Linked DNA regions of Homo sapiens: all the other regions are reported to be linked to region 2. Evidence: microRNA targets listed by miRTarBase, many of them from high-throughput screens and not tested one by one. Region 2 holds a microRNA gene; each other region holds the end of a gene's coding sequence.

What was found. Region 2 holds the annotated microRNA hsa-miR-496 (UGAGUAUUACAUGGCCAAUCUC, at 1,164-1,185, shown strand). A microRNA usually pairs through its seed, bases 2 to 8, with sites in the 3' UTR of a target mRNA and lowers its output. Matches are read on the target gene's strand: a 7mer-m8 pairs with bases 2 to 8, a 7mer-A1 pairs with bases 2 to 7 and ends in A, and an 8mer does both.
Region 1: the mRNA of TIPRL is a reported target of hsa-miR-496. Seed matches in the 3' UTR shown: 7mer-A1 at 393-399.
Region 3: miRTarBase lists WBP11 as a target of hsa-miR-496. Seed matches in the 3' UTR shown: 7mer-m8 at 2,886-2,892.

The regions. Positions count from the first base shown.
Region 1 is chr1:168,199,670-168,203,026 of GRCh38, forward strand. It overlaps TIPRL (TOR signaling pathway regulator), which reads left to right. Exons shown (of 7, transcript NM_152902.5): 7 at 234-2,440. The coding sequence ends at 377. Among named protein-coding and RNA genes, the nearest start is that of TIPRL, 22 kb to the left of the region's middle.
Region 2 is chr14:101,059,465-101,062,821 of GRCh38, forward strand. MIR496 (microRNA 496) reads left to right here and starts at 1,109; the gene lies at 1,109-1,210. MIR154 (microRNA 154) reads left to right here and starts at 291; the gene lies at 291-374. MIR377 (microRNA 377) reads left to right here and starts at 2,586; the gene lies at 2,586-2,654.
Region 3 is chr12:14,784,586-14,787,585 of GRCh38, reverse strand. It overlaps WBP11 (WW domain binding protein 11), which reads left to right. Exons shown (of 12, transcript NM_016312.3): 12 at 88-3,000. The coding sequence ends at 521. Among named protein-coding and RNA genes, the nearest start is that of H2AJ, 12 kb to the right of the region's middle.

The DNA of each region.
Region 1 (3,357 bases), not on the chromosome of region 2:
GACATTTGTGGGAACATTATAGATTATATAACCCTGTGATCTTTGATGAAATCATTCAGTAACAAAGTTGAATGATTCCGTATCAAGAAATACCTATTATTTTTAGGAGCACATATGCATATATTGCACCTGATTTTAAAATTTCCATGCTTTATGAATGCTTGAACCAAAACATTTGTAAAAAATTTCAGTACAGTAACTGAATATGCTAATATGATTTATGTATTTCCTAGCATGTTCCACCTTCCCTCTTCACGGAACCTAATGAAATATCCCAGTATTTACCAATAAAGGAAGCAGTTTGTGAGAAGCTAATATTTCCAGAAAGAATTGATCCTAACCCAGCAGACTCACAAAAAAGTACACAAGTGGAATAAAATGTGATACAACATATACTCACTATGGAATCTGACTGGACACCTTGGCTATTTGTAAGGGGTTATTTTTATTATGAGAATTAATTGCCTTGTTTATGTACAGATTTTCTGTAGCCTTAAAGGAAAAAAAAATAAAGATCGTTACAGGCAGGTTTCACTCAACTGCTGTTTGTACTGTCTGTCTTCACATTCATATTCCAGATTTATATTTTCTGGAGTTAAATTTGGATGATTTCTAAATTATCACAAAGTGGGACCTCAGCAGTAGTGATGTGTGTGTCTCATGAGCAGTGAGCACAGTCTGCATTCATCATGAAACACTATCTTCTACCAGGAGGAGGTTAATGTAAATCACCAAATCCCAATGCCTTGTGACTTTCATAGGATTCCTGATCATGCATGTTGATGTACTGGCTCTTCACTTTGGGCTTTCTGATGTTTATTCACACCTTTGGAGAGTTGCAACTTGCCACATACGAAATTAGTCTCATAGTGTAGTGAACTTCAACCCCAAAATTTTAAAAATGTATTTCCCCCCAGTTTTAAATTGCCTTTGAAATTTAAAAAAAAAAAATTTAGACTTAGTACCAGAACCAAAAATACCTAGATTTTTGGAGAACTTATTACATACATAGAAACATGAATATGGTTTACCACTGTGTGTGTGTAGGATGTTAGAATTATCTGTCCTCCATCTTTAGGTGCTTTTTCTTAAATGTGGTTCTACTTATACTGATATTTTTAATTTCCATCTTCCATGCAACCTCAGAGTGAATAAACCCCTTAAATTTGGTGCTGGTTCGAAAAAGTCTAAAGGGTTTATTAGGGGTTGTTTTTCGCAAATATTACATCAATCCTTAAAGCAACAAGATTAATTTTCTGCTTAAAATATTTGGGAAGATAGGTAAGGAGGAGGGGGTTTTAAAATATAAAAGCAAGTTTTTCTATTTTAAGGTGCATATTTGTAACATTACAGGGGATGAAGTAAAATGTAATTAATTAGCACAAGACTTAGGGAGTACAGAAAATACACAGAAGTAAATTTCAAATCCATTTGATTGTTTTCATAGTGACCCCTTAGTCATTTTATATTCTTGTCTGCCTTTCTAGAAAAATGGTTGTCATAAAGTGGAAAGTGATTAAAAAGCATCAAATAAGAAATTATTTCAAGTGGATTTTTAAAAATATTTTTTTGAAGGGCAGGGGGAAAATTCACCCCTTTTCTGATTTGAAATATGTTGTACATATTTCCATTTGATGGATAAATCATTAAGTAAGAATATTTGATTTAAAGTATTAGCCAACCTCTTCAGGTATTAGCCTGAAGATAAATTTTAACAAAACATATACACTTGGGTATCCGTCATTGCTCAAACTCTATAGTGTATTGCTGGAGCCAATAGGCAGGGTATATTTTATTAGCTAAATTTGATATTTGTCTTCTGCCTTCTGTATCACCTCCAAGCTATAGGAAATCAGGATTTTGTTGGCTTTAAGAAAACACATGGTATGTTCACTGTATATTAAATATACCTGTATTTAATGTTTTCTCTTAGGACAGAAAAGTAGACACACACACACACACACACACACATGTTGTGTTCAGCTTTCTGTTTTATATTATTTGCCATTGAGATTAGAATAGAACAGGCTCTATTCATGCAAACTATATGAAATGAAAAACTTTTAAGACTCTTCATTAATTGGAGCTTCTGGGCAACATCGTGTGTGTGTGTGTGTGTGTGTGTGTGTGTGTGTGTATACAGACATTTTTTTTTTAACTTGTTGATTCAGATGTCTTGGTCCCTGAATAGTCCTAGATTACTTATTTTGAGAATTCATTGTTAAAAATTACAGGGAATTAAAATAATTGCCTTTTTTTTTTTTAGAGGGTAAGAGATGGGTAGAAGAGTATGCCTCTGAAAATTTTATTAGTTTATTCTTGTGGAGAATACCAAGAAAATGTGTATTTGCCCATTGCTAAATATGATATATGCCATTTTGTATTTATTTGTCCCAAGTGTCTTTTTGTAAGAGGAGAATAAACAATAAGGAATTACTGATCAAAGTTTTACTATTTCATTTATTTGAGTTTTTCTTAGAGCTTAATTAAAGAAGTGTGGTTTGGGGTATACTTTTCTTATTTGTGCTTTATGTTTTGAACTCAGTCAACACTGTAGACAGTCTCCAGGCAGGTTATAAATTAAAACCTAACTGATGGTTCAGAATACAATTTCCCAGTTTGCATTTGGGCTCTTGCCTCTCCTCTCCCTCTGTTCATCAATATTTCCATGGATGTTTTTTAACAGTATTTTCTGTATGTTGGGTTAATGTTTTTGGTTTTTGAAAATATGAATACCTGTCGTATGTATTAGTTTTGAGTACTATATGTACAATTATGGTGCTAGGTATAATAGATTACAACAATGAAGCGATGTAGTATATGTTTTTATAGGATTAAAGTCTAATGGAGGAGACAAAGTAAAAAAATTACTAATTTTAATATGTGCAGTGATGGAAATGATACTGACAAGAGAGTAACAGAAAATCAACTAACTTTAGTAGAGGTAGTCAGAGCTCTGCTTCTCAAGAAGATGTGGAAAACCTCAAGAGACTGTCATTCCCATTTTAACAAGGAGAAAAGGCTGGGTCATCTATAAAATTAAAGCTTTTTTTCTTGAACATATCAAAGAACTGAAATTACAAGGCAAACAAACCAAATCCCAAAGAGTGATAAGCCCTACAAGGAGAGATGGGACATACTGACTGTTTAACCTTAGGAAGAACCCAAGAGAAAGAGATGGCCTTTATATAAACAGGTAAAATATTGGCAAAAATTTTAAGAAATTCCTAAAGTGTACATGTGGGCTAGCATACCAGTTTGGAATAGCCAAGAATCTGAAATAAGGGAACTTCATACACACTCACAAGTTCTTTCCCAAGGGCCTACACCAGGACTTAAGAAAGACTGGAAGCAGGG
Region 2 (3,357 bases):
AGGGAATGTGCCCTGCTCTGATCCAAATGCTGAGTTTCTGTGCACTTGGCCTCTCCACCATCAGGTTCCCTGGCAGTGCTCCTTTAGACATGCACCCACCTTGGCAAAGGCATTGAGGTCTGGATGGCTGCAGGGTCCGGGATGGAATGGTTGAATACAGGGCGTGTGCTTTCTTCTCAACCCTCTTGCAGTCCGTCTGCTAACCGTCAATGTTCACTGTCTCCTAGGGGGACTTCCTGGAGGAGGCCAACTTTGGAGAACAGGCATTGACATTGGGTCTGCGCTAGCGTGTGGTACTTGAAGATAGGTTATCCGTGTTGCCTTCGCTTTATTTGTGACGAATCATACACGGTTGACCTATTTTTCAGTACCAAATCCCGCCTTGGAGGGCTTCCTGGAGCGGAGTCTTACTTCAGGGTGTCAGCTCCTCTCCAGGGTAAGGAAGGGGACCATTGACCATAGCCGACCCAGCAGTGTGCCCTGGCCCTAACCCTGTGTGTGCCCCGTCCTTGGGGAGGTTTCTAGAGATGGTGCCACCTTTGGGGAAGAAGTGGAGCTTTTCCTATCAGAGCTACTCTGTGGTACTGGTGGAGAGGTCTTCCATGATGCATTCGATTTATTTTTTGACCAATCCTACATAGTGGACTCTTTTGAAAGCATTAAATCTAGCCTTAAAGCACCCTCGGGTGGTGCCGAGTTTAGGAACTAGAACTGGTGTCTGAATGCCTGAACGCACGGCGAAGCTGACAGTGTGCACACTCTTCTTGGTGGGTCGTGCACCTGCAGGCGTCCTGCTTGCTTACCATGGCAGTTTCCTCGAAAGAGGCGGCAGTTCCCTCATCGGCTCACTGCATGTTTGACAAGACACCGTCTTGCTGTCTTCCCTGCTGCCCTCTCTTCATGTATCACAGATGGTGCTCTGCAGACCTCTCTGCTGTGGCACTTCCCTCCCTGAATGGCTTCCTGCAAGAGGTGCTAATTGCAAGTAAGGGATGGAGTGCGGCCCGGACCGCAGAGCTTATTTCGTGGGTGGTGTGTTGCCACCTTCCTGACTCTCAGTATCCCGTCCGTCCTCAGGCCTGCTGCTGGGACGCGCTGGAAGCGAGCACCCAAGTCAGGTACTCGAATGGAGGTTGTCCATGGTGTGTTCATTTTATTTATGATGAGTATTACATGGCCAATCTCCTTTCGGTACTCAATTCTTCTTGGGAAACGTCACGAGGGGAAAGCCCAGCCGGCACCTGCGCAGGGTAAGGAAGTGGATCACCTCCGCATGACAGGTGCTCTCTGTGTGACTTACATCACTTGGCTCATATCCCGGCCATCATTAGGAGGAATTCCCCGAAATGATGCTGACGTTTTAGTTGACATGGTGGTCTTCTAGTCGCATCCTTGAAGACTCGTCAGTGAATAAACCACATTTAGTCAACCTTTTTAGGTGTGAAATCATCTTGGCTGTGTGGCACACTTTAGGGAAAGGAACTCCTGGCTGAATGGAAGACATCCACATTACGCCCTCAAATACCTTATCTTCTGGGTGACCTCTGGGAAGCAAGGGGTGAAGGGGGTTTCCTCAGCAGTGAGAATTAATGTTGTTTAAAGACACATTTCCATGGCACGACTCGGTTATTCCTACTGCAAGACGAGAATTGTTAATAGCATTTATTACTACCTTATGTTGCCAGCTGTGTGCCCTTGGAAAATCCCTTCACCTATCAGCTCTCTGGGCCTCAGTCTCTTCCTCTGTAAAGCAGGGTTAACAGCGGAGTGGAAACGTGCTCTTTGTGAAGTGTCTAGACAGCGTCTGGCACGTGGCTGTAGGATAAGCATTGTTTCTGAGGATGGTCATTATATGAATGTTATGTCATCTGCACTCATTGTCCTCTCGCCACTAGAATGGAAGCTCCCTGAGGGCAGAGTCCTTGTCTGTTTTGCCTGGTGCTGTGTCGCCAGATGTGCACAGTAGGTGTGATGCTGAATGAATGAATAGGCAGCGTGACCTGTTTTCTTGGTTGAACTCTCTTTGAGGCCTCCTGGAATGGAGTGCATGGAGTACAGTCACCTGAGCCTGTGCTGTCCCTGTGACGCAGCCCCACCCACCCTCTGAGGATGCTGCGCTGGACGAGGAGTCGCCAGCCTTCAGGTCGGGTCCTCCCTCAAACCCCTGTAGGCTGGACTGAACACGGTCACATGGTTCATTGGCAGCCCCCTTCTCTGTGTGAAATCCTGCTTCAGAGACTTCCAGAGGAGATACCGGCTCTGGAGGTGGACCTTGGTGTTCCAGCCCCTCTAGGGTAGGTGACCAGGGGCTGACTCTAGCTCGGGCTGACCTGTGATGTGTGTGTGCATAGCCTCGCCCCCACTGCCTGCTCCAGGGCTACAGAAGCTGGTCCATGACCAACCATGTTCTGACCACTGCCTGGGGGGCTTCTCGGAGGTAGAGAGAGAGAGAGAGCAAGAGGGGAGAGAGCGAGCCAGCAAGCCAGCGAGCCTGCAGCTGGAGTCAGCAGGGAGGTCCCGCAGGCAATGCCGCCTTTGGTGAAGAGGCATCTCGGTGTGTTCTTGCCCGTGCTGATGTTTGACCCTTGAGCAGAGGTTGCCCTTGGTGAATTCGCTTTATTTATGTTGAATCACACAAAGGCAACTTTTGTTTGAGTATCAAATCCTGCTTGGGATGGCTTCCGGGACCCAGTGGCAAGCTCAGGGGCATCTACACCCCTCCCGTGAGCAAGAATGGACGGGGTAGACGTGGGTGGTCTGCCCTCTGCGGTCCTCTGCGGTGGATGAGAACAGATGTCGCTCAGAGAACACAAGCTTCATTCATGATGGGGGCGGGGCTCGCGGCCCGGGGAGGATGGCGTTGGTGTCGCGTCGGCTTTAGCTCTTACCCTGGACCCTGTCTCTTTACATCACCATTTTGGCTGTGTTGATCCCAAAGACATTTTGACTCCACCATTTTTTTTTCGGAAGGTATTTGACCTCGCGGATACACAAAGAGCTCACACTTGGCAGGGTCTGTGACGAGTCTGCAGCCCCAGACCCCCGTCTAGCTCACAAGCACTGTGCTTCTTTCTGCACCTTTCCTTGTCTCTATCTTTCTCTTTCTATCCCCCAACCAAACATTGTTCCCAATTTTCTCCTGGGTTATGAAACAAATAGAGGCTATCAGTATCTCATCCCATTTGTATTAAATAATACTGATAAAAATAATCAACACAAAATAAAACTAAAAACAGCTGAAACGGCACAGTGCTAAATGTGTTCAGTTGACTACAAATTGGCAGAGGAATCCAATTTTCTTGACAACATTTCAGCTGTGACATTTGACCTGGGGAAATAGCAAGCTGCCGACGTGGC
Region 3 (3,000 bases), not on the chromosome of region 2:
ATTGGCAACCAATATTTAAATGTCCTTAATAGTAGTTAAATTTTATTAGTTCTTACAGTATTCATCTTGCCTATTTTATTCATTTAGGTATTCCTCCACCTCGTCCTGGCATGATGCGCCCACCTTTGGTGCCTCCCCTTGGACCTGCCCCCCCTGGGCTGTTCCCACCAGCTCCCTTGCCAAACCCTGGGGTTTTAAGTGCCCCACCCAACTTGATTCAGCGACCCAAGGCGGATGATACAAGTGCAGCCACCATTGAGAAGAAAGCCACAGCAACCATCAGTGCCAAGCCACAGATCACTAATCCCAAGGCAGAGATTACTCGATTTGTGCCCACTGCACTGAGAGTACGTCGGGAGAATAAAGGGGCTACTGCTGCTCCCCAAAGAAAGTCAGAGGATGATTCTGCTGTGCCTCTTGCCAAAGCAGCACCCAAATCTGGTCCTTCTGTTCCTGTCTCAGTACAAACTAAGGATGATGTCTATGAGGCTTTCATGAAAGAGATGGAAGGGCTACTGTGACAGCTTTTGATGCCAGAAAAGGCTTCTGTTCACAACAGTGGCCCATGGAGAAAGAGGCTCTTATTAAACTTAGATGAAAGAGCTGCTTCCATTGTCAGGGTATTTTCTAATTTCAGTTCAAGGAATATCCTAAAATTTAGCCTTGTTCAGAATTTACTGCACATAAAAAAGGGTATTTCATCCAGAATAGATCAGTTATTGAAGCAGTGCTGCTAACATCCATTCCCTTTCATACCACCATTTTCACCCTGTTTCTTCCCCTCCTCCAGTTCTTTGGAAATTTGTGATCGGGGGATCTTAGTTGCTTATTTGTTTTGACTCTTGTGTGCTGTGGGCACTGGAGTAGAGATTTCTGGAGAAAAAAAAACAGTTTATTTCATCTTGCCTTTTGTGTTTGAGTTATTTTTAATATTTTCCTGTAAATATTTTGTAATATTTTACTTGTAATGAAATGGATCACAATGTCATTTCCTAATACAAGGCAGGATATGTGGGAAGAATATGTACAATTATTTGATTAAAATTATTTCCCACTGACCTAAACTTTCAGTGATTTGTGGGAAAAATAAATAAATGTTCTACACCAAGATACTCTGTGTTACTGATAATATGTAAACATAATACCTATTTTATGGACAGAAAAAGTTAAATATTTAAAACTTGGGTCTTTAAGGAACTGCCTTTCTGGTACAGAATGAGAATCTTACTGAAAACATGGTAAAAACTACATTTTAAATTTTAAGGGATAAAAAGGAGTAATTATTTCCCTTTTTTAAGATTGTCATACTGGCTTTAGAGAAACTGAGAGGTGTTAAGAATAGTATGGTTTGGCTTTTATTATTTAAAAGATGTCTTACCTTCAGTGGTTACTTATTCCAGAGCTTCTTGAACTGATACGAGTTGAATGGCAAAAGTCATTTTAAACCATTTTTAAGCTATAAAAGAATCAGAAGAGGTTAGCTTTTTTTCCTTTCTGAATTGGTGGGTTTGGTGTGCTTTTATATTAAAATATGAATGAATAAGAGTGCTTAACATTAATTTGCATTTATACCATTTTCTTTACAAAGTGCTTTAATGTAAACTCATCTACCAATTTAGACTAACTCTTAGTAAGTTTAATGTTAATTTAATGACTAACTCATCTACCAATTAACCCTATAGATAACTTTTCTGGGTATTTTCCCCATTTTACATTAGAGAGTATTGAAACTTAAAAAGGACTCGTGATTTATCCAGTGATCCAAAGTGTGTATTTCATAAACACATACACACAGTGCGTGCATTGTTTAGGCATACGTTACTTTCCACAGTATCTCAAATGCCTTTTACATGAATCCCATACTATCAAAAATTGGTGATAACCTAAAATGTAGTGCAATAATACAATAAGGCATTTATTTTCTTAGAGTTGAGTTGATGGATTTTTAGATTTTTATTCAAGATCTTTTGTTTGTTTGGCTTTGCTTGGAAGATACTGATTTATTCTTTCATATTAAAGCAAATCCTGCCAAAGCACTAAATAGACCGTTTTGGGTTGGTTTTTTAGTGTAATATTAATACGGGTCCACAGGTGAATTGAGTCTGTTCAGATGTAAGGATTGAACCTTATGTTATCAATCCTTGACACCATCCTTGATAACTTACGGATATCAAGGATCAAACCATATGGTATCAATATTGTTAGTTATTCAGCATAAACAGAATTATTTCCCAATACTTGATCTGAAATATTTTTAATGGTCTTACTTGAAACTTATATTCTTTCTGGGAGTGATGTTTTTATCATTTTTCCATGGAGACAGGTTCTAACTCTGTTGCCCAGGCTGCAGTGCAGTGATGTGATCATAGCTCACTGCAGCCTGAAACTCCTGGGTTCAAGTGATCTCTGGCCTCAGCCTCCCAAGTAGTTGGAACTTCAGATACGTGCCACCACAACCAGCTAATTTATTTTTTAGAGATGAGGTCTCGCTATGTTGCCCAGTCTGGTCTCCTAGCCTCAAGTGATCTTCCCATCTCAGCCTTCAGTTGGAGATTTCTGATTTATGTTAATATAAGAAAGCTGTTGATAGTTTATCATAAAGGCATTTCCTTATATTGCTAGTATAATTTTCTGAAAATTAGTGGTGTGACAATACATCAGCTGCATCCACAGGAAAGGGGAATTAATTAGCAGTTCTGATTCTGGGTACACTTGTTATGATCATAATTTACATAATATTTTCATGAAAATGGTCAGCTCACAGCTATGAAATGTAAATGATAGAAATCTTTAATCATGTATATGGATAGACTTGTTACTATTTCCTTATCAAAGTGTCACTTTAGGGACAGCAGTTGCCCCTTTAAATTAAGGATCACCACAATAATACTCTGCCATGTCATGGAATCAGCATGAAGCCCTGGATGCTATCCAAGATTCTGTTTCAGTTCTCATTTTGTATATTCTTGTTTGTGCTCTTGATTAAAATATCTCCTTATA